3 separate regions of the Homo sapiens genome follow, and all the other regions are linked to region 1. The links come from fine-mapping of genetic effects on gene expression. A gene starts in region 1. Each other region holds a variant in brackets. All regions are shown on one strand. Distances are from middle to middle.

Region 1 (8,180 bases):
TGCATCCGTCCCTCCCCATGCCACCTCCACAGAGGGACTGCATCCCAGAGACCAGCCACGTCCTCTGCAATGTGCACCTAAACCTTCACCCCAGCAGACGCTCCCCATTCACCACAGCGCTGCAGCCCCCAGGGAGTCTCAGCACCACCTGAACTTGACTTTCAAGAGCCGGAGGCAACAGCAGCCAGCCCTTCACACCGAATCCATCTGCATCCCTAGTGGGAGACTTGGGCCGGGCTGCCTGTGCATTCAGGGGTGGAAGTAGTGGAAGCCAGGAAGGACAATTCCCTTCGGAGAGTAGAGAGGGTTCGCAGTGGCCCGAGGAGCAGGCTTCCCAGAGAAAGTCCCTTTGGAAGGATGAGTCCTCTTGCTCTGCCAGGCCCTCCACACTGCCCATCCCCTCTAAGCCGACAGCAGGCTGCCCTGCCAGTGTTCCTGCCACCACTGGGCTGGCTGCCCTGAGCCACGGGGCACAGGCCATAGCCCCGGTCTTACACAATGGACCCTTTCCCAGAAGCTGAGGCTGTTGCATAAAACAGAAACCCCTCCCCCTGCACTCCACCCCCACCATGCCCCTCCCAAGAACTGCTTATCTGAGCTCACCCATTTGCCATCACAGAACCAACAGGACGATGGGGTTCCCCTTCCTGAAATGGTTCACATCCAAAGCCCGCTCAGCCCAGCAGGCCCATCTGGACACTCAGTAGCACATTAACAAGGAGTGCCTCTCATGAGAAGTAATCAGGCGCAAAGAGCCAGGGAGCAGCGTGGGAGAAGAGATGGGGTCAGCGCCTTCCCCAGAGATGGGGTAGGGGGCGGAGACCGGGCTCACCAGGAAGGCTGTGGTCTCACGGGCTCTGCCCCAGCTGCCCACTGAGCCCTGAAATGCCTCCAGCAGGAACAGAGCCTTTGTCATGCCAGAGAGACAAAGCCAGCCAGAAACACCTCTCTGCCAGGGGCCCCTGAAAGCAACAACTTCTGGAAAAACCCATTCAGAACTAGGTTCTGACCAGAAGACAGGGTGCTGGGCCATGAAGAATGGGGCAGCCAAAGGCAAGATACAGGAAAGGAATTCCAGACTCAGCAGCGGGCACAGAGTCTGCTCCAGGGAGCCTGGGGTCCCTGGTGAACCATCCAGCTCAGACCTGGGAAGGAGGTCGTTCTCTCACCCAACCTCTCTACCCTAGCGGTGAGGCTGAAGCCCAGAGAGGGCATGGGACTCCCTAGAGTCCACAGCATGCTCATGGTAACCCTGGGATGAGAGCCCAGCCCTCCCGACCCCTAGTCCAGTATTCTTTCCTTGATTCCAAGTCACTTAAATATCTGAGCCTCAGTTTCTTCATCTGTAAAATGGATCTAATCCAGACCTCAGAGAGGGGAATGTGTTCTGTAAACACGAGGGTCTTATGTAATCATAGTAAATTCTGACTACTTCCAAATTAGACTGAGGTCTGAGGCTGGGCATTGGCAGTGTCTAATCAACATGTCTGGAGAGGGGCAGGAAAACCGAGACAAGCACACAGAGGCCACCTGTGGTCCCCCGGACTGTGTGGCTCTGCTTTGCTGAAATGATTGACCACTTTTTAAAGTACTTATGAATCACTGCAGGGCTGGTTATAATGTTGGTTCTGAGACTGCTTTTCCAGCCAGTCTGCAGGTGATATGGATGCTGCTGATCCAAGGAATGTTCTAGAACCGTGACTGCACAGCCGACCTCCTTTCCTTTGCTCGGACTCACCTCCCCCCTCATCTCCTCTGCCTCCTGGGAGCCTGGCTGCCAGCTGCCCTGGGTGGAAGAGCCATGCCAAGGCCAAGGCCCTCGAGTCCCCAGCACTACCACACAGCCTCATTCTCCCTAAGAAGGCTTAAACCACTTGGCCTTGCTCCTTCTACCAGAAAAGGCCGGTTCTGTGGACAAAGGGGCTGCTCAGGGGAAGAGGAGGAGGAGAAGATGGCGGGGGGTGGGGGGCAGGGGGGGCGGGGGGAGCAGGCAGACTTTGGGAGCAACTCCCCTCCAGGCACACCCTCCTGGGAACTTTGAACTGAGCAGCTTCCCAAAACGTTTCCAAGCAGGGCAGGGCTGGAGGCTTAAGAAAATCAATGACCTGGCAGGGCGCATTGATTCACACCTGTCACCCCAGCACTTTGGGAGGCCAAGACAGGCGGATTACTTGAGATCAGGAGTTCGAGACCAGCCTGGCCAAGGTGGTGAAACCATGTCTCTACTAAAAATACAAAAATTAGCCGGATGTAGCAGCATGCGCCTGTAGTCCCAGCTACTCAGAGGCTGAGGCATGAGAACTGCTTGAACCCGGATGGCGGAGGTTGCAGTGAGCCGAGATGGCGCTACTCTACTCCAGCCTGGGCAACAGAGTGAGACTTGGTCTCAGGAAAAAAAAAAAAAAAGAGAGAAAAGAAAGAAAGAAAATCAATGACTGTGAACAGGGAGCCGTGGGGAGGATGGGAAGACAGTGAAGAGGGCACACAGATGGTGAGGGTTTCAATCCCAAAGCCCCGGCTCCTATCTGCTTCTTCAAATGGAGAAAACTAAACCAAAAGGAAAATAAGAAAAATAATCACCGGTAATTCATATCACCCAGAGGCAAAGGTTAGCACTGTGGTATATTTCCTTCTGTCTTCCATGCAGTTTATACAAGATTCTTCACATTCACCATCTTCAAATATTCTTTAAGGGCATACTTTTATGGCTATGTAATACTCCACTTACTCACGGACCTAAGTTTATTTTACCATTCTCACAAGATTGGCCATTTCAGTTGTGCCCAATGCTCCACTATTATTATAACTTAACATTTTCATGGGCATCTTTTTTTATATAGTATCTGTACTTTCCTTTAAATTCCTAACCTCTCCGTTTAAAAAATAATAATAAAAATCATATTTTTTTTAACTAGGTCCAGAAATTCTGGAAGGTCAAGAGGCTTTGGCTCGAATCCCAATTCTGATACTTATTTGCTGTTTAGTGTTGGCACCAGTCCTAAACCTCTCCAGGCCTCAGATTATCATCTGTAAAATGAGACTGTGGAATCAGAGGTCTGAGGCCTGGTGGATCTTGTGTGACTTTTCTCTGATGCACCTCAGATGCATTAGGAGGCAGAAAAAGTCGGATTTCGGTGGTTGCAGCATATACTGAAATCCGCAGCCTCATACTTACAGGCAACAGTGTCCAGAGAGCTAGAGAATTTAGAAGAAAACTAGATGACTCATGCATGCAAGCCGAAAGCCACAACTGAGAGATCCGCATCTTCGCAGAGGATATGCTGCAGGAAGGAGCTCGGTGCAGGCCAGCTCTGTCACCTGCTAGCCTGGGTCTCCCGCAACGCGGCAGGTCTCCAGGTCTCAGTTTCCCCATCTTTGCGAAAGGATGATCATTATATCTGTTCTATTTACCCCCCCACCACAGAATTGTGGTTGGAGCTCGTGCTCTCAGGCGGCGGTTGCGCCGGGGCCCCTGGCTCAGCTGCCTGGTGATGGGGCTCCGGCCACCTCCCCTCCCTGGCTTCCTGGGCTCCGTCGAAAGCGCAGGGGTTGTGACTGCGAGCTGTGTCATCCCTCTCTGCCTGGCTGCCATCCCCTGCCCGCCCATCCGTCCTGGTGTGGCTCTGCTCAAGGGTAGGGAAGACGGGGACATCTCACCGGTCAGCGGCACCCTGTGCCCGCGCGCTCCTCCTGGCGACGCCGCGTTGTGGGCACTGGGAGGCGCCGTATTTATAGCGCTCTGCTCGCGCACACACCCCCTTTGGGGCTGGCTGCAAACCTGCATGACTCACGCCCAAAGAATGCCGCGGAAAGCAAGGGGAGCTTTCTGGAAGCCGGGAGGTGGGGGCCGGTGCAGCACCGGGCTGGGGGCGCCGGGGGGCGCATCATCACCACGAATAGCTGTGCTGGCTCCAGGAGAGACCCTGAGGTGCGGCCGCTCGGCGCTTCCAGTAGGGAAGAGCCTGAACTCGCGTGCCCATCTGGGAGCCCCTCTCACGCGGTTAGCCCGGCTGTCTGTCCCAGTCCAAGACACAATCTCACAGTTCCCTGGCCCTACTGACCTTAACCTTCACATTACACAAGCGCCACTTCTCTTGACCCATTTAAATAGTAAAGAGTCAGACATAATGAGGGTGGGATGGAGAGGGGCCTTGTGCTGGAGAAGAGAGCACAGGAAGTATTGAAACGCCTACTCCTGGAAACATCACACTGATGGGGGTCCCTGGACTGACCCGCCAGGCCTGGAGGAAACAGAATTGTGTTTAGGAGTGATCAGAGCAGATATGTGGAGAGCCAGAAGGCCTCTCCGGGGTCCTTGATCCACAGAGCTTAAGCAATCACTGTCCCCATCTTTTTGGAACCCAACCAAGCAGGGTGGGCTTCATGGCTGTGGGACCCTTGCAGATCCACGTTTGGTTTAATGGGCTACTGTGACGGTCTTGAAATTCTTCATAGTTTTTGAACCAGTGGACCTGAATTTTTATTTTGCCCTGAGCCTTCCCAGTTAGGAAATCAGATCTGTGTCCAGAGGGGTTTGCTGGTCTCCAACTGCTGGAGTTCCTTCTGCTGAGAGCAGGGAGAATCTCCTGTCGCAGCCACCCCTCCCCCTGGCAAGGAGGGGCAAATCTAGGAACCCTGGAGGTGCAGCTACTTCTTGGGGAAGAAAGTGAGCTGCCCATTTTGGAGCCAGGGATGTTTAAGCCCCAGGAGAGAAGTCAAGGGGCTGACAGCTGGGGCAATGGGTGGACAGGGCGGGTACAGGCAGCCCCACTGTGGGTGGCAGACTTTGAAAACCATGTGAAACAAAGGGGCTTAAAGGAGAGCTGCGTGGTCAGGGGCTGAGTTTTCCAGTTCAGGATCAGGACTATGGAGGCACAACATGGAGGCCCAGTCCCTTGCTTGCCCAACGTCCAGGGGCCACTAGGACCCCAGTCCTTTTCAGGAGGCAGCCTCGGGGAATCTTCAAGGCCCATGACTAAGTGGGAGAACCCAGACCAGGTCCATGAAAGTCTGATTACAGTCCTAGGTGTGCCCCTAGACACTGGGTGACCTCGGACTAATCACTTTGCCCTTGGGCCTCAGTTTCTTCCATCTGGACGATGAGGAATCGGGAATGGATCATCTCCACGGCTCCCTGCAACCTAACCTAGAGCCAAGCCAAGTATTAGAAGGCCATTAACCCAGAAGAAGAAAAAAATGTCCCAGAAGAGGCTACACTTTATTTTTCTTAAAAAAAAAATGTCTAATTATCAGTAACAGCTACATTTTCTGTGGACAGTGCCTGCTCCTTATCAGTGCCTGCTCCTTATCAATACCTGAGGTTAGAAGAATTGTTTTTGAGCTCGCTCCTTGTAACTTTTCTGTTCTGTAGCTCCCTCAGCATCCGGAACAGAAGGCATAAATCTAGTTATATTTTTAAAAATTAGACTTTGGAGGTCAGTCAGTGAGATCCGCCTTAGCCAGCTGAATTAGGGGAAGGGAAGAGAGGAAGAAAGGACTTGGGAGAAAATAGCATGATTCACAGATTCACAGTCATGACTGTGATCCCTTGGGAATAATTACTTGATTATTCCCACTACTAAGCAAACAAGGTTCAGAAGGTCAAACTTTGAGGAAAGAAAAGTGTAAATTTTGAAAGCGCCATAAATGCATCACCAGATGTTTCATATTCTAAGCAGATCATAGACATTGATTGGTTCAGGACTCACACACTGCTTGATTCCTACCCCATCCCCAGCATCTGCACCCGGTGGTCATCCTGCCCATGTTTGAATGCCACCAATAACAGGGAGCTCACTACCTGCCATGCAACCATTTGTCTAGTAAAGCTGTTGATAAAGTTAGGGCCTTCTTTGGTTGAGTCACAGTCTGGCTCGTGTATGGGCCAATCCGGAGCCCAGTTCTGCCCTCTGGAGCCACACAGAGAAAATCCAGCCTATCTCTCCCATAGTGCCCCTTCTGATATTTGAAGGCAACGTAGTCTGCTTTTCCCAGTGACCTCCAGGCTTGCAGCTCCTTGCCTTGCCGTGGTTTGCAGACTTTTCCCCAGCCCTTTGACATTCTGGACCTCATCTCTCTTGAAACCCTTGGCCCAGCCCTGGACTAGCCAATGCCAGTGGGGAGCCTTGGACCAGCCAATGCCGGAGGGCCTGAGCACACAAAGCAGAACAGGACCACCCCTTCCCTTGCCCTAAACACTCCAAATAAGCTTTATCAGATGCTGAGTCACTGGGCTGATTCATAGAGAATGCATCATCTTCTTGGCAGGTGCTGCTGTTTGATCCTCTGTCTCCCATTATGGACTTACACAGCTGGGTTTGGGGCATTAGCTTGATTTATTTTCTTGGAGAGTCAGAGCCATGGGGAGGGCCAGGGAGGGATGAGTAAAGACCCTTGCATTTATCTGTTTATCTATGCTTTGTGCACCATCTCTGGCTGCCTGAATGTCTCTGGGGCTGCTTCGCTACGCAGTGTCCTTATTACACATCCCCAACCAGCCTTTGTCTGGCTCAGCACCACAAGCAGGACAGCTCAGCCAGCAGTCTGATACAGCTGGAACAAACTAGGAATGGGCAAGAGCAGTATCCTGTGGCCTGTGATTAAGAATCACTCTCAGATGGGCGTGGTGACTCACACCTGTAATCCTAGCACTTTGGGAGGCTGAGGTGGGAGGATCACTTGAGTCCAGGAGTTCAAGACCAGCCAGGGCAACATAGCAAGACCCAGTTTCTACAAAAATTAAAAAATTAGCCAAGCATGGTAGTGCATGCCCGCAATCTCAGCTACTCAGGAAGCTGAGATGGAGTATCGCTTGAGCCCAGGAGGTCAAGGCTGCAGTGAGCTACGATCGCACCACTGCACTCCAGCCTGGGCAATAAAGTGAGACCCTGTCTCTCAAAAATAAAAATGAAAAAAATAAGAGAATCACTCTCCAAGGGGAGCAGGGAGGGAGGATGGTGAGAGATTGGTCAACCAGTACACAGTTAAAGTCAGATGGGAGGGATAAGTTCTGGTATTCTATCGCATAGTAGAGTTTAACTTTTTTTTTAGGTCCCAGTATCTATTGCTCCCCTCTATGTGTCCATGTGTTCTCATCATTCAGCTCCCACTTATAAGTGAAAACATGCAGAATTTTGTTTTCTGTTCCTGTGTTACTTCACTTAGAATAATAGCCTCCAGCTCCATCCATGTTCCTGCAAAAGACATGATCTCGTTCTTTTTTATGGCTGCATAGTATTCCATGGTGTATACCGTAGTATTCCATGGTGTATATATACCATATTTTCCTTATCCAGTCTGCCACTGATGGGCATTTAGGTTGATTCCATGCCTCTGCTATTGAGAATAGTGCTGCAATGAACATATGAGTGCATGTGTCGTTATGGCAGAGCAATTTATATTCCTATATATACCCAGTAATGAGATTGCTGGGTGAAATGTTAATTCTGTTTTTAGCTCTTTCAGGAATCATCACACTGCTTTCCAAAATGGTTGAACTAATTTACACTCCCACCAACAGTGTATATAAGCCTTCCCTTTTATCCACAACCTCACCAGCACCTCTTATTTTTTGAATAATGTATATTTCAACATAGGTAGAAGAGAGAACTTACAATGTTCTCACCACAAAGAAATGTTTGAGATGGATTTGGTAATTACCCTAATTTGATCCTTACACAATGTGTGCACGTATCAAAACATCACATTGTACCCCACAAATATGTACCATTCTCGTGTCAGTTTTAATTTTTTTTAACTTAGTGAAAGGCTGGGTGCAGTGGCTCACGCCTATAATCCCAACACTTCAGGAGGCCGAGGTGGGGAGATCACTAGGTCAAGAGACCATCCTGGCCAACATGGTGAAACCCTGTCTCTACTAAAAATACAAAAATTAGCTGGGCATGGTGGCACGCGCCTGCAGTCCCAGCTACTCGGGAGGCTGAGGCAGGAGAATTGCTTGAACCCGGGAGCTGGAGGTTACAGTGAGCTGAGATCGCACCACTGCACTCCAGCCTGGCAACAGAGTGAGACTCCATCCAAAAACAAACAAACAAACAAACAAAAGGATGGATTTGCTAATTACCCTAATTCGATCATTACACAAACGATCTTAGTAAAAAGATCACAAATGATTCTTAGTAAAAAAGAATCACTTTCCAAGCTGTAATTATTTAATGGGT
Region 2 (8,180 bases), 630 kb after region 1:
AAGATCAATAACATCTCTTCCATCTGCCTCACCGCGTTGTTAAATGAGGCTCAAAATGGAAGGTGCTTCCAATCTGAAAAGCCATTGTAAAGCCAATGTAGTACGCAATTACAAAGTAGTCCCCCATTTTAGATAGCCAATGTGCAGTTTTATCAACTAAAATTGACTGAAGCAAGGAATTACATTTATCTAGTGTTATGGGCTGAATTGTGTCTCCCTGAAATTCATATGTTTAAGCCCTGACCTTTAGTTCCTCAGCATGGGATTGTGCTTGAACGTAGGGTTCTTAAAGAGGTAACTGAGGTTAAATAAAGTTATTAGGGTAGGCCCTAATCCAATATGACTGGTGTCCTTATAGGAAGATTATGACATAGACATGCACAACCATGTAAGGACACAGGGAGGAGACGGACATCTCCAAGCCAAGGAGAGAGGCCTCAGGAGAAACCAACCCTGATGGCTCATGACCTTGGACTTCCGGTCTCCAGAGCTGTGCAAGGATAAGTATCCATTGTTGAAGCCATCCAGTATGTGGTACTTTGTGATGGCAGCCAAGCAAACTAATTCATCAACCTTGAATCCCCCATTAAAGGTTTGACCGTTAGCAAGCTATGTCCAACAAAGTGTCCCACAGCGTACTAACATGGATGTAGCCTGGCCTTGGAATCAAATCACCCTTGGCTACGATTCTGTGTCTGCCACTTGTGAGCTGTGTGACTTGGGGAAATGACTTCTGCCTCTGGACCTTAGGTTCATTACGTATTAAAGGTGGTTCCTTCCTCCCGGGGTTAAATAAGGATGCAGTGAGACTGGATTAAATGACAGGATGTTTATGAAGGCCTGACCCATACAAGGCACTGTGTGTATTAGCTTCCCTTCCTTATCTTGAGGATTGTGTATCCCCAGATAAATTGATACCATCTTCACTCATGGAGTCCCTAGTACTTTTACATGTCTTCACATTTTCATATGATTTTCAACTTAACCAGTCTTCAGTTAAGATAGGAAGAGTGGGCTGAGCACTGTGGCTCATGCCTGCAATCCCAGCACAGTGGGAAACTGCAATCCCAGCACATTGGGAAACTAAGGCAGGAGGATCCCTTCAGCCCAGGAGCTCAAGACCAGCTTGGATAACAGAGTGAGACCCATTCTCTACAAAAAAAATAAAATTAGCCAGGCATGGTGGCACATGCCTCTGGCCCTAGCTACTCGGGGAGCTTAGCTTGGGCCTGGGAGGTCAAGGCTGCAGTGAGCTCTGATTGTGCCACTGTACTCCAGCCTGGGCAACAGAGCCAGACCCTGTCTTGGGGGAAGAAAAAGAAGTAAACAGAGAGAGAAACCTAAACAATTTGGACAAAATACAGAGCTAAACGGTAGAAGAGTCCAAAATCCAGGCTTCCTGGCTTTTCTTTGACTGGAAAGATGGAAACTCCTAGTGTGGAACGAGGCTAACCCCATGCAGGATAAGAATTTCTCTTGTTGGAGGCTGTGTCACAGGCCATGGTCACTCATATTTGGCTCAGAATAAATCTCTTCAAATATTTTACAGAGTGTGACTATTTTCATCAATAATATGTATGAAAGGGACAGAAGTAATTTTTCTAATTTAAATAAAGGGTATCCCTGCCCCCCAAATCCATCCAGATTCATTCTTCCCAAACACAAACTTCATTCTATTTCTTTGCTATCTAAGATCCTTCTCTGACTCCTCTTCCCTGATGTTGGAATGAAATTGCGTCCAACTCTTTCCGTCTGACCATCACCTCCCCACATGGTCAGCCTCTGGCTCCTTGTCCCGCCTTTCTCACAACCCCCCTCCACCTCACAGGGCTCACTTCCCAGCTCACCCCTTGGCCACACTCATTTCCACCTTCAAGCCTCTGCTCTAGCCCTCCCTCCCCCAACTCCTCTCCATGCAAACTAAGCTGGAGACCAGCAGGGACTGCCCACCCCCCAACCTTTTTTTTTCTTAGAGTTTTCGCTCTTGTTGCCCAGGCTGGAGTGCAATGACACGATCTCGGCTCACTGCAACCTCCGAGTCCTGGGTTCAAATGGTTCTCCTGCCTCAGCCTCCCAAGTAGCTGGGATTACAGGCACGCACCACCACGCCTGGCTACTTTTTGTATTTTTAGTAGAGACGAGGTTTCACCATCTTGGCCAGGCTGGTCTCAAACTCCTGACCTGGTGATCTACCCGCCTCGGCCTCCCAAAGTGCTGGGATTACAGGTGTGAGCCACTGCGCCCAGCCAGGGACCCCCTTTTTAAGGGCCCATGCCCCGACCTCCACTGCCCCAAGCATGGAAATAAAGGAAAATTCTGAGTTCCTTCAAGGGAAACTCCAGGCAGCTCACTAGCCCAGAGAGGCAAACATGCAACTTTATAAGAAGATCACAGTAGCCTAAAATGATAGCCAAGGGAAGTTGGAATTCAGAGATGTTTGGTTTCCCTAGACAAACTAAGATATATCTTAACAAATGTCCCTGGATCCCCCGACCAAGGAACCCCATGTATGTATGGACCCACTGGCATGTAGACCTCAGATACAGGGAAACTGAGGACTCAACTCTGACCATCATTCTTTGCTCTAATTTCTTCCTGAGGGGCTTGGAGGGAGTCACATCTGGAGCCAGTTAACATTTTTTTCATCTGACCACAAATTTTTAAACAAAGCTTCTCTTTCTTAACCAATTGCATATCAGAAAATCTTTGACTCTACCTATGACCGGAAAGCCCCCACTTTAAGATATCTCACCCATTTAGGCCAAATCCAACGTGTAAACTCCAGGTATTGATTTGCGATTTTGCCTGTAGCTTTTGTTTTCCTGAAATTAAACCCTGAATTTTCCTGAAATTAAGCCCCAGGGGAGGTCAGGGTTTGAGCAATAGCTACCCGGTCGGCCTTGCTTGGCACCCCGCAAATAAACACCTTCCTTTCTATCCCTGAGACCTCGGTGGGGATTTCTGGGCTTTCTGCACCGGGCGAGCGGACCCCAGTTCAGTTCAATAACCACCTTGCCTATGCAAGGCCAATTTTATTCCACTCCAAAGCCTCCCAGACAACAGCAACTCCTCCATTTCCCAACTCTCAGTGCCTCAGAACCCTGTGGGCCCCTGTTTCATTAATCAATTGACCTCAAGTGGTCCCCCGCCCCACCCCCACCCCCAGGACTCAGCAGCTCCCACCCTGCCGCAAGCACTTCCCACTGGAAAACTTTCCAAATAAATCAGTAAACCAGGACCTGGGGCTTTTGCTGGAAAGTCAAATTACAGTATTTGTTTGAAGACTATTTTTCATTCAAAAATAAGCAGGGATATTAGCTCAAGACACAC[A/G]TACACACACACAAATTCCTTCTTACAAGGCAAACATCCCATTTTAATGGATCTAATTAGATCCTCAGGATATAGACCTAAGAATAGACATCTGTACTTCTCTCTTAACACCAGAGGTAACTGGGTGCCACCCTCCAGCAACACTGGGGCACGGCTGAGCAGGAAGAGGAGGAGGGGAGGGGAAAGGTCAGGGGTCAAAGGTCACTAGGCAACTTCACACTGGCCAGGCTGAACTCTGGAGAACCATTTCATAAAAGCAGGTCATAAAACAGCCTTTGGTTCCCTCATGGAAATAATATTGTAACTGGAAACTGATTCAGCATCATAAATATACTGAAAGCAAAGACATCCCATCTGTATTAGTCTATTTTCCCACTGCTGTAAACGACTACCTGAGACTGGTTAATTTATAAAGAAAAGAGGTTTAATTGACTCACAGTTCTGCAGGCTGAACAGGAAGCATGACTAGGAGGTCTCAGGAAACTCACAATCATGGCAGAAGGCAAAGGAGTAGCAAGCACACCTTCCTATGGCAGCAGGAGAGCGAAGCAGGAGGAGCCACACACTATTAAATGCTCGGATCTCGTGAGAACTCACTCACTAGCGTGAGAACAGCAAGGAGGAAATCCGTTCCCATGATCCAATCACCTCCCACTGAGGCAGGAGAATACAGAATTAGGGTAACCAAGGGTTAAGTCATACTTGGAAGAACAGCAGGTGCAGCCAGTTCCAGGCAAGACTGGGCAGCACACAGGCCACATCCTGGCTCCTATGATAACAAGACAGGAGTTTCCACTTCAGCCTCTGATTGTTCATGGGCCAATCTTTCATAGGGTGTAACCAATTGGAGGCCTTTCAAGGGCACCTCAGAGTGTTACCAAATTCTTTTAGCCTAATACAAACCCTAAACAACACTGCAACTCGGGGGCTCTTGAGCTGCTTGCTCCAGCCTGTTCCCACTCTGTGGAGTGCACTTGCACTTCATAAATCTGTGCTTTCTTTGCTTCATTCTTTTGTTGCCTTGTGCATTTTGTTCAATTATTTGTTCAACACGCCAAGAACCTGGACAACTCACAGTCAAGAACTTCCATCTGGTAACACAACCCGGCCCCTCCTCCAATTCAACAGGAGATTTGGGTGGGGACACAAATCCAAACCATATCACCATCTATAAATCAGTTCTTATATTACTTACAAGAAAAATATATGCAAGAATTGGCATAAATATACCATAAGTATACTATACATGCTAATTAAAAGAGAGGTTCCATTATATACTCATAAACACATGAATGTACAATTTTACTATATCATAAATGTTATCTACTATGAACACATTAGCTGTAATTGTAAACATTGAATGAATACTAATTTTCCTTGCCTTCTTGGCATTTGGACAAGTTTTGTGAAGATGATTTGCATGGTCCAGGTTTTCTAAAAAAGTCCATAGAGATAGTTTGAACAGATGTAGCAAAGAGAGCAATTCATCTTAGAGTGCTTGGTCCAACTTAGAACAGCCTCAGAGCCTCATAGGTGACAGGTGGGCAAGTAGAGGTGGCAAGAAAAGCATGGAAGCCTGAGACAGTGCCCAGAATTATTCTGGAAGGAGAAGAGAAAGTAAACAGTCCTCCAAACATTAGTGAATTTTTCGGCAGGCGGCAGGGGGAGAGGAGGACCAACATGGGCGATGGCCACAGATACTGGGGTGGCTGAGTCCCACATTCACTGTGAGATGGTTAATGTGACATGTCAACCTGGCTGGGCCCTGGTGCCCAGTTGTTTGGCCAAACACCAGTCTAGATGTTGCCATGACGTTATTTCTTAGATGTGATTACATTTAAATCAGTAAACTTCCAGTAAAGCAGACTACCTGTCATAATGTGGGTGGGCCTCATTCAATCACTTGGAGACCTTAAGTGCAAAGACCAAGGCTTCCCAGAGAAGAAGAAGTTCTCCTGAAGATTGCAGCATAGAAACCTTACCTGAGTAGCCAGCCTGTTTTGCAGAATTCACGCTCAGGACTGCAACATCAACTCTTACCTGAATTGCAGCCTGTCAATCTTCCCTGCCGGCTTCAGACTTGCCAGCACCCGCAACTGTGGGAGCCAGTTCCTTAAAATAAATGTAGGCAGGTAGATAGGTAGGTAGGTAGAGAGATAGATGATAGATGAATAAATAGACGGATGATAGATGGATAGATGCAAGAGGAAAAGAGAGAAAGATAAGTACATCTTTTGTTAGTTGTTTCTTTAGAGAACCCTGACTGATACAATCTTCTAGCATCTTGAGCCAAGAAGGAAACAATTGTGCATAGAGTGGCCTGGACAGCAGAGAAGCTGCAACAGGTGAGGAAAACTGTGGCTGAGAACTCCAGTTCACTCCATCCATACCTCACTTTCCCAAAGGCAATAGGAGCCTTCTGAGTTCATGGGACAGCCCTGAACACCAGGCTTTTCAGAAGTAGGAGCCATCCACGCAGAATCACTGCCCAAGCAAGCTATCAGCAAAAATCAGTCAGGGCATCAAAAGTCCAGAATGAAACCATGGATGCTTTTTGTGGATCAATCAGATGAACTTGGGAATGAGGCCAGTTCACCTTTACGAGCCCCAGGGAGCTTCAGGCCAACGCCTCCAATCAACCATGTGTTTAGTGCAGAGCCAGGGCTTTGTGGGCGGAGGGCCTGGCTCTCTCGATTTCTGGCCTCTGGAAAGAACAAGGGCAATCTGTGTTCTCATTTGTAAAATGAAGATAATTTTGACCCCAGGCTCACAGGGTGACTGTGAGCACTAGATTGACCGGCATGTGCTTCCTGAGCCAGAATACTAAAGCCAGTTGCTCCTAATAGCTCAGAGCTATTTTCTGATTTTCCTTTTTTTTTTTTTTTTTGACAGAATCTCGCTCTGTCACCCAGGCTAGAGTGCAATGGTATGATCTTGGCTCACTGCAACCTCCACCCTCAGGGTTAAGCGATTTTCCTGCCTCAGCCTTGCGAGTAGCTGGGATTACAGGCACGCGCCACCATGCCCAGCTAATGTTTGTATTTTTAGTAGAGACACAGTTTCGCCATTTTGCCCAGGCTGGTCTCAAACTCCTGACCTCAAGGGATCCACCTGCCTCAGCCTCCCTAAGTGCTGGGATTACAAGCATGAGCCACCGTGCCCAGCCAGCTCAGTGCTGTCTTCAAGGCAGCTCCTAGGACACCTCCCACAGGGAAAATAGTTCTCTCTGGTTGTGACAACACAGGACTTCATGTAGGGGTCCCCCAAATTGTAGGGAGGTAATTTTCACATCTTTGAAGGATATGAAAATTAGACCCCTTAGGGGAAAATACAGGCTGAGAGACAGTGGCCGATCGTGAGGTCCCTGATGAAGAAGGAATTGGATTCTGGCAAGTGAAGCCTCTCTGCAGGATGAGGACAGGAATATTGCTATTATGCCCTCCAAACGAGGAGCCCCACAAACCTTAAGAAGGGGGAAGGTGAGCCTTGGCTGCTGCAAGACAACAAAAACAACCACGCGCTTCACAATTACTAACTTGCTTCATTCCCACATTGATCCCCCAAAGCATCATTAGACTATATTTCTTTTTTACACATAAAGAAACTAAGTCTCCAACAGACTTGGCCAAGGTTCCCCATTTCGTGAGAGGGGGAGCTGAGACCCATGCACAGGCACGTGAGTCTCTCACCTGCCCCTTCCACGACACCTGTGCCCTTTTTCACAAGGTCATGAGGTGATGACTCTATGCTGCGGTCTGAAGATCAATGAGACAGACAACGCCCTAAGACAATAAAGAAAGATAAAGGTAAACAGGTCAACACTTTTGTTTTAGGAAAGGGCACCTTCAGAGAATGATCAAGATGAACAAAACTTCCCACCCCCCTGGAGCTTTTCCTAGAGAGGGAGACAGACATTATATCAGCACAATTTCCATCTACTGTCAATCCCTGAAAAAAATAATAAAATAGAATAGAATAAGATAAACCAGCACGACTGTGTTGTCTTATGAAGGAGAAGTGCGGGAGATCCCAGGAACTCGTGAGAGGCAGGAGTGGGTTGGCATGAAGCAAAGGCTTCAGGGAAGATGTGAGGTTAAGCCAAGAACCGACAGAAGTTCAGGCCGGGGCATACACGACTCCGAGTCCATGTACACAAAGCCAAAGGCCAACAGGAGCAGTTGTACTCCAGACACCCAGCTTAAAGCATGCTGATAGGCCGGGTGTGGTGGCTCACGCCTGTAATCCCAACACTTTGGGAGGCAGAGGCAGGCGGATCACCTAAGGTTGGGAGTTCGAGACCAGCCTGACCAACATGGAGAAACCTCATCTCTACTAAAAATACAAAATTAGCCAGGCGTGATGGTGTGTGCCTGTACTCACAGCTACTCAGGAGGCTGAGGCAGGAGAATCACTTAAACCCAGGAGACGGAGGTTGCAGTGAGCCGAGATTGTGCCATCGCACTCCAGCCTAGGCAACAAGAGTGAACTCCATCTCAAAAAAAACAAAAAAACAAAGACAAACCAAAACAAGCATGCTGATATTAAAACAAAACATGGATGGGCTATGGCTCAAAGTGTGGAAATCTGTACATATTTTGAGTTCAATGGGAGCCCTCCAAGAAATCCCCAGCTTGGGAGTGGCCCCATCATGACCTGTTCACCTTCATCCACCACAAAACCTAGAGGTCTGATCCAAACCAAACCCCCAAAGCAAATGTGTAGGATCCAGCACATGGACTTCAGTCTGCTTGATTTCAAAGCATGAAATCGTTGGCTGTTTTCCCCAGAGGTTACCTGCTCAATACAGCTTTCAAGCTGAATGCCATCTTCCATTCCCTTGCATGAAGGCC
Region 3 (8,180 bases), 110 kb after region 1:
CAGAATGAAGATTATCCTTTGTCAGAATGAAGGTAAGAATGGAATATTACACAGACACAAAAAAGAATGAGATGATGTCCTTTGCAGGGACATGGATGGAGCTGGAGGCCATTATCCTTAGCAAACTAACACAGGAGCAGAAAACCAAATACTGCATGTTCTCACATGTAAGTAGGAGCTAAATAATGAGAACACGTGGACGCATAGAAGGGAACAACACACACTGGGGACTTTCAGAGGGTGAAGAGTGGGAGGAGGGAGAGGATCAGGAAAAATAACTAATGGGTTAATGGCTTAATACCTGGGTGATAAAATAATCTGTACAACAAACTTCTATGACAAGTTTACCTATGTAACAAACCTACACTTGTACTCCTGAATTCAAAATAAAAGTTAAAAAAAAAAAAAAAGGAATGAAGGTAAGGTCTAGGCTGTGTGACCTTGACCAAGCCATCTTAGTTTTCAGGGTATCGGAGTTCTCATCCATTCAATTCTAACAATAGCAAAGGAGTCGAAAAGACTAAACAACACTGCCTCTGACACAGGAGAGGTGCTTGGTAAACATCCTATTATTTATTCCCCTATGCTGTTGATTTTTTTGCAATTGAAGAAGCAGATGTAGTAATTGGCAAACTAATTGTCTCCCTTCCCAACTGTCTTTAAAGACCCAATCCTCCTCACTTCTTTGAGACCTCTGTCACCAAAATGTCTTGGGGTCTAAAATAGAAAAGATGCAGCTCTAGAGCCCTGGGAATGACTCATTGATTATAATTTACTCTGAGAAGTGCTAATGTACAGGAATTACAGAAAGCCAAGGAACACAGAGAAAAAGCCCATGACTCACCCTGCAGCTGATCAGGGAGAACTTCCTGAAGATGTTGGAGCTAAGTCTTCAAGGACAAACAGGAAACGGCCAGGTCAGAGGATGGGGAGGGATGAGGGCTTTTCCCCATAAAATAACTGCAGTTGGAGAGGTTATGGAGATTATAGGAGATGTGGGGTGCTTCAAGGCTGGGTGCTCGAAAGCTAGGTGAGGAAGGATACCTCACCCTCTCTGGCAAGTAAGAAACAGGAGGGTGCTGAGCAAGTCTGAGTGGCGAGGGGAGGCCATTCTGTCTCTGCCCAAGATCAGGTGGATCCTGATTTTGGGAAGCTTGAAGCTGATATACTCTGGCAGGAGTCTTTCTTTAAGAAGACTCTTAAGTAATGTAACATTACAAACACGAAATTAGAGATTGGTCTGGGAAGGGGCTGTGTAAGTCAGGTGACCCTACCACTTAAGCTTCATCAGTTTCATAATAAACTCATCTCTGCTAACTAAGACTCTTACCCCATCTTTCACCCACTATGCATGTGGGGCTTCAGAAAGAGTACTGGCTTAGGAATCAGGATCCTGGTTCTAGTCGAGTCTCCATCACCACCTGATCAAATTAGGGTATATTTCTGTTCCAGCTGATCTCTAAGGTCCTTTCTATCTCCATCCATCCATCCATCCATCCATCCATCCATCCATCCATCCAGCTATCCATCCATCCATCCATTCATCCACCCATTCATCCATCCATGCATCCATCCATCCATTCACCTATTTATCCACTCGTCCATCCATTCATCCACGTATTTATCCACCCACCCCTCTATTCATCCATCCATTCATTCATCTATCCATTCGTCCAGCCTTCTATTTATCCATCCAGTCATCCATCCATCCACCTATTTATCCACTCACCCATCCATTCACCCACTCAGTCATCCAACCATTCATCCATCCACCTGATTATCCACTCATTCATCTATTCATCCATCCACCTATTTATCCATCCATCCATCTATCCATTCATTCACCCACCCATCCATTCACCCACCTATTCACCCAATCTGCCAATTCATCCATTCATGCACCTATTATCCATCTACTCACCTACTCATCTATCCATCCTTCCATCCATCCCTCCTTCCCTCCCTCCCTCCCCACCTCCCTCATTTCATGAGTAAGGCCATTTTAAGAACATCCAAGCTTCTTACTTTTTTAGAAGCTCTATTCCACCTCACATCAAATGCAATAAAATTTACTCATATTATGCATTAAATAAATATACATATATATCTGTATTTGCTGTAAAATTTTGAAGTTTTTAGAGACTTTGCTTTCAAAAATTTTATTTACTCAACCAATATTATTGAGTACCTACTATGAACCGGGCACTGTTCTAGGCATTGGGGACAGAGAAGTAACAAACATTTCAGGTCTTATGGAACTTATTTGGGGTTGAGTCCAACAAATAGATAGAAAATATATACAGTATGGTAGATAAATGTCATGGATAAAAATAAAGCAAGAAATATAAAGAACAAAAGAATGAGGCAAGATTGGTTTATTGTCCATGAACAAGGGTTTTTAAATGGTTGGTTCTGGCCTTTAGAGTGATAAAAGACAATTGAGATTCATCCCAATGGCCTCAAGTTAGATGGTGTCGGTGAGACTGAGGTGGAATGGGGGTCTTGCCAGGAACACCCAGGACCCTGGAACTCACCCTTAACTTAGGGATAATGCTGATGTTTGGCTTTGAGCAACCCAGTTTACAAATGACCATGATTCCTCAGTAATCAAAGTGCACTTCCAATTTACAAGTCTAAAATGAAATAAGGCCAGGTGCAGTGGCTCTTGCCTGTAATCCCAGCACCTCGGGAAGCCAAGGCAGGTGGATCACTTGGCCAAACTCTCAAACAGGAGTTTGAGACCAGCCTGGGCAATGTAGCGAGATGCCGTCGCTACAAAAAAGAAAAAATACAAAAATTAGCCAGGAGTGGAGGCATGCGCCTGTGGTCCCAGCTACTCAAGAAGCTGAAGTAGGAGGATTGCTTGAGCCTGGGAGGTCAAGGCTGCAGTAAGTTAATGATAGCATCACTGTGCCCCAGCCTAGGCAACAGAGTGAGATCCTGTCTCTAAATGAAATGAAATATTTATGAATGCTAAATCTAGATGTAAGGATGATATGGTAGCATGACATTTGTAGACATTAATTAAATATGTATTCGATTGTGGTTTCTATTTGAATCTAGAAGCCAGTACATTTTTCCAAGGTCTCATACATTTTTTGCATGCTCCTGAAAAGCTTGCAAGTATTGTGCAAATGGACTAACTGTCCTTTTGCACAGACTCCCACACTTGGGACAGGTACTCCTGTAGATGTGAAGATGCATGAAGACACAGGCAGCCTTGCCCACAGAGAGCTCATGGTTCATGTTCACAGCTACTCTGGGCTTCTGCATCTATAAAAAAAGAGGTCAGATTCACCCCATAGAATGATTGTGAGGCTTCAACAAGATCACCCCTGGCCCTCACACAGACCTCCAAACCCTCGTGCCTCCATCCATAGTATCCACAACATGTCTTCTCCAAAAGCCACCCACAGTTCTCTGCTGTGCTCTGCCCCTGGCCATTGGCCTCAGACCCATTCTCTAATGGCTCTTGAGCTGCTGTCAGAAAGCCCTACTATCCCCAGCCTTATCACTGCAAATTTCCATTCATTTTCAAGCCTTTTTCTCCTTAGCCTTTCTCCTTAACCAAAGCAGCTTTCTCCTATCCATCTCCCCTCACCATAACATTGTATGGCCAAGTAGGAAACCACGCCTTGTTTTCTGCTGCTTCCCCAGACTGTTACCCACCATTGACACTGAAGGTCACACCATCTGGTCCTGTTACTTTCTCCAACAGGGTATCCCTTTTCTCCTAGTGACCCCGGCACCAGGTCCACTTGTCCCTGACTTCAGGTGATATGGCCGCCCCACCTGAACCCATCTCTCCCTCCCACCAGCACACTGGGCTCCCTCTTCGGCAGCAGGCAGCATTGCTTCCCCAGAATACATCCCAACATCAACCACGCTGTGCATCTGCTGCTTAGTCTCATACTTGGTGGTGGCTTCCCTTTCCTTCCATAACCCACTTATCTCTTGGACAGATCCCCAATCACGTTACTTGTCCCATTTTCACCTGTCCATACATTTTTAAAATATATATTTGATTTCCTTCTTGCGGGGCCTGGAGCCCCTCAGCCCCTCTGATGCTGCCCCACAAATGACCTGAACTCCTTGAAGTTCACCCCTGAGCTGATGCATCCACAGCCCTGGGCTATCTTGTTTTCTTTCTTCTCTCCTGTTCCTTGGCTCCGAATTGGCAGGTGGAGAAAGTTATCATTCCATGCTAAATGGACCGACTACAAAATTGTTCTAACTCTACCACTTCCTTTTGGCAACCTTCTGATTCATTTCTTGTAAGAGTGAGCTTTTCGTCACGCACTGACTGTCTCAATCTTTCCCCTTCATCCTTAGAGTCTTAATCTCACTCCGACTGCTGATTTCTTACAAATTACTTCATCTACCACGTTCTGGAAGCCAATCATTAAGAGCTTTGTCCCAGTCGATCCCTTCTCTGTACTAAAAATACCTCTTGTCCTCTCCAACTCCTAGCTTCCTGGCCCAGATGACGGACACCCCAGGTACTGAAAACTTGTCAGTGGAGATTTCTCAAGTGTTATTTGTGAACTTTGAGCAACCATGGAAAGCAAGACTAGGTATCAAAAAGTGCAGTTCTTTTTGTTGTTTGTTTCAGAGACAGAGTCTCGCTCTGTC[T/A]CCCAGGCTGGAGTGCAACGGTGCGATCTCAGCTCACTGCAACCTCTGCCTCCTAGGTTCAAACGAGTCTCCGACCTCAGCCTCCCGAGTAGCTGGGAGTACAGGCACGTGCCACCATGCCGAGCTAATTTTTGTATTTTTAGTAGAGACAGGGTTTCACCACGTTGGCCAGGCTGGTCTCGAACACATAGCCTCAAGTGATCCACCCGCCTCAGCCTCTCGAAGTGCTGGGATTATAGGCGCAAGCCACTGCACCTGGCCTGGAAAGGGTAGTTCTTATTTTCCAGAGGTCAACAGTGAATTCCCACAACTCTCGGCTTGATGACTTGCCATCAATCACAGGCAAAATTATAGAAACCAAAGGGCTGCTTTATGTTATTTAGAAAATAGTACAGCAATTACTAGGAGTCAATACAAGTTCTCAAAGCCTCATTCCTTTTTTATTTTTTATTTTTGGCAGGGTTGCTAGACTGGTAGATCAGGAAGACGCCATAAATATATTTTATCTGGCTCTAAAGCAAGGTTGTTTTTTGACAACCATGTGAGCAAGTAGGAGAATATAGTCCAGATTAAAGTAAAATCAGGAGGATTAAAACTGGTCAAGTGTGGCCGGGCACAGTGGCTCAAGCCTGTAATCCCAGCCCTTTGGGAGGCCGAGGCGGGCAGATCACAAGGTCGGGAGTTCGAGATCAGCCTGGCCAACATGAATTCTGTCGCTACTAAAAATACAAAAATTAGCTTGGTGTGGTGGCAGGTGCCTGTAATCCCAGCTACTTGAGAGGCTGAGGCAGGAGAACCGTTTGAACCCGGGAGGCAGAGGTTGCCGTGAGCCAAGATCGCACCATTGCACTCCAGCCCTGGCGACAGGGCAAGACTCCTTCTCAAAACAAAACCAAACAAAAAACTGGTTAAGTGTGCCCAAAGAGTGCTAAGTAATGGATTAACCTCAGTCAGAAGGGATGTTTGCTGAAGGCACTATTCTGAGACCTATCCCATTCTTCCAAATTTTGGGGGGTGACAATATAGAAGGAATATTTACAAACATGTACATATATTTGTAAAAGGAATTATGTTCAAGGAAATAATGAGAACCATAAATAACTCAATAGGCAGATTCCAACTAGATGTCTTTGACAGAGAAAATTCATCAAAACATAATATTGACTGAAAGTAGCAAGTCATAGAAAAAACATTACAATAAGATTCCATGAATGAGTTTCAAAATAGGAAGAATCGGTGGTGGCTCACACCTGTAATCCTAACACTCTGGGAGGCCAAGGTAGGAGGATCACTTGAGCCTAGAAGCTTGAGACTGCAGTGAGCTGTGATTGCACCACTGCACTCCAGCCTGGGCAAGAGAGAAAGACCCTGTCTCTAAAACAAACAAACAAACAAAAACAGGTTGAACTAAACAGTGTATTATTTATAGAAATACACATCAGAGATAAAAGATATGAAGAAGAAGCAGATGATTATCACAAAATTCAGGAGAGCTGGGGGGAAGCCAGGCATGTGATTAGGAAAGGGTGCAAATGGGACTTTGAGGAAGGATGGGTGAGTACTGCTCTATTTCCTAACCTCAGAAATATAACATATAATATTTATATTATATTTATATTTATATTTATATTATCCTTGAAAATGAACATATCTTTTCATACACTCTTTTGTGTGTTTGTTACATTATATAGTAAAAAGAAATTTTAAGGAATAAATCTAAAGTTCTATACCATGGTCCAAACCACTGCCCCCTCCAAAAAAAAAAAAACCAGAATAATCTAATCAATACAAAGTGCAGAAAAGACAGGGGATTTAATGGGTGGTGTAAGTCAGAGTCAGGTGTCTAGGCTACATTTGGAGAATTGTCTCTACCCTATTCCTGTGCAGGCCAGCTGGGATCATGGTTGGGTTCATGGCTGGAGTCATGGCTGGAGACCATGCACAGTTCAAGAGCTGCTCCTTCCCTGGGAGTAAGCCAAACAGGGAAGAGTTGGGGGGTCTTGCCCCATGGGATGTCAGAAGCCATCCTCTGTCCGCAGATGCCTGCTTTTCCTGCTGTCTCGTTGGATCACAGAGAATGGGATGTTTAGGGGCAGTCACAGGTGGCAGCTGACAGCTGTCTTGAAACTTTTTAAACTGTCACATGAAAAGATGAATTCAACTTGTACTGTGTGGCTCCAGAGGACAGAGCAGCAGGTAGAAGTCACTGTGAGTCATGAGCTCCCGTCTCTGGATGCATTCATGCCCAGGCTTAGGTCTTCTGTTTAGGGAGTCGCAGAGGTCACAGTTAGGTCAGCTAAGATGACCCTTAAAGTCTCTTCCAACCTCCACAGGCTATGAGTCTATGAAACCTGTGCATGACATGCACAAAGGAAACATAGAAGCACTTTGGGAGCCCGTGGCAGGAGGATTACTTGAGCCCAGGAGTTCAAGACCAGCCTGGGTGACATAGCAAGACCTGCATCTACACAATTTTTAAAAATTAGCTGGGTGTAGTGGTGTGCATCTGTGGTCACAGCTACTCAGGAGGCTGAGGTGGGAGGATTGTTTGAGCCCAGGAGTTCAAGGCTGCAGTGAGCTATGATTGCGCCACTGCTCTCCAGCCTGGGCAACAGAGCAAGACATTGTCTCTTAAAAACAACAGCCAGGCGCAGTGGCTCATGCCTGTGATCCCAGCACTTTGGGAAGCCGAGGCGGGTGGATCACAAGGTCAGCAGTTCGAGACCAGCCTGACCAATGCGGTGAAACCCCGTCTCTACTAAAAATATTTAAAAAATTAGCTGGGCTTGGTGGCGGGCGCCTGTAATCCCAGCGACTTGGGAGACTGAGGCAGGAGAATTGCTTGAAACTGGAAGGTGGAGGTTGCAGTGAGCTGAGATTGTGCCACTGCACTCTAGCCTGGGCAATAAGAGCAAAACTCCGTCTCAAAAAAAATAAAAAATAAAAACAGTTTATTCTGAAACCAAAGAGATTTGATTTTAAATATGAGCATTGTGCTTTGACAGTATTTATTTATTTATTTATTTTTTGAGATGCGGTCTCACTCTGTCACCCAGGCTGGAGTGCAGTGGTGCGATCTTGCCTCACTGCAACCTCTGCCTCCCAGGTTCAAGCAATTCTCCTGCCTCAGCTGGGATTACAGGTGTGTGCCATCACACCTGGCTAATTTTTGTATTTTTAGTAGAGATGAGGTCTCACCATGTTGGTCAGGCTGGTCTTGAACTCCTGACCTGCAGTTATCTGCCCCCACCTCGGCATCCCAAAGTGTTGGGATTACAGGCGTAAGCCACCGCGCCCAGCCGACAGCATTTATTTTAAAATGAAATGGGCCCTCCCTATGTTGCCCAGGCTGGTCTCGAACTCCTGGGCTCAAATGATCCTCCTACCTGAGCCTCCCAAGTAGCTGGGATTATAGGTGTGAGCCACAGCACCTGGCTCAGTTTGCCTCTGAGATCAACACGTAGTATTGGTTTAGAAGAAGATTCAGGCACCTTCCGCCCACATTTTTAAGATTTCAAAGGCAAAGAGCTTTGAAACCCCCCTTGAAG

The links. PIP is the estimated chance that this variant, and not a neighbour inherited with it, causes the effect. A credible set is the group of variants that fine-mapping cannot tell apart.
Region 2: its variant is the best candidate, but not a certain one, in a credible set for the expression of CLU in skeletal muscle (GTEx, PIP 0.70).
Region 3: its variant is the best candidate, but not a certain one, in a credible set for the expression of CLU in thyroid (GTEx, PIP 0.65).

The regions. Positions count from the first base shown.
Region 1 is chr8:27,610,998-27,619,177 of GRCh38, forward strand. It overlaps CLU (clusterin), which reads right to left and starts at 3,703. Exons shown (of 9, transcript NM_001831.4): 1 at 3,658-3,703. RefSeq lists enhancers at 1-152, 3,335-3,834, 4,791-5,291, 5,582-6,338 and silencers at 2,116-2,301, 3,857-3,946.
Region 2 is chr8:28,241,232-28,249,411 of GRCh38, forward strand. No RefSeq gene overlaps it. Among named protein-coding and RNA genes, the nearest start is that of PNOC, 72 kb to the right of the region's middle. The variant A/G (reference allele first, on the strand shown) is at 3,331.
Region 3 is chr8:27,719,143-27,727,322 of GRCh38, forward strand. It overlaps a transcript of SCARA3 not described here. Among named protein-coding and RNA genes, the nearest start is that of MIR3622B, 21 kb to the left of the region's middle. RefSeq lists an enhancer at 8,045-8,180. The variant T/A (reference allele first, on the strand shown) is at 4,633.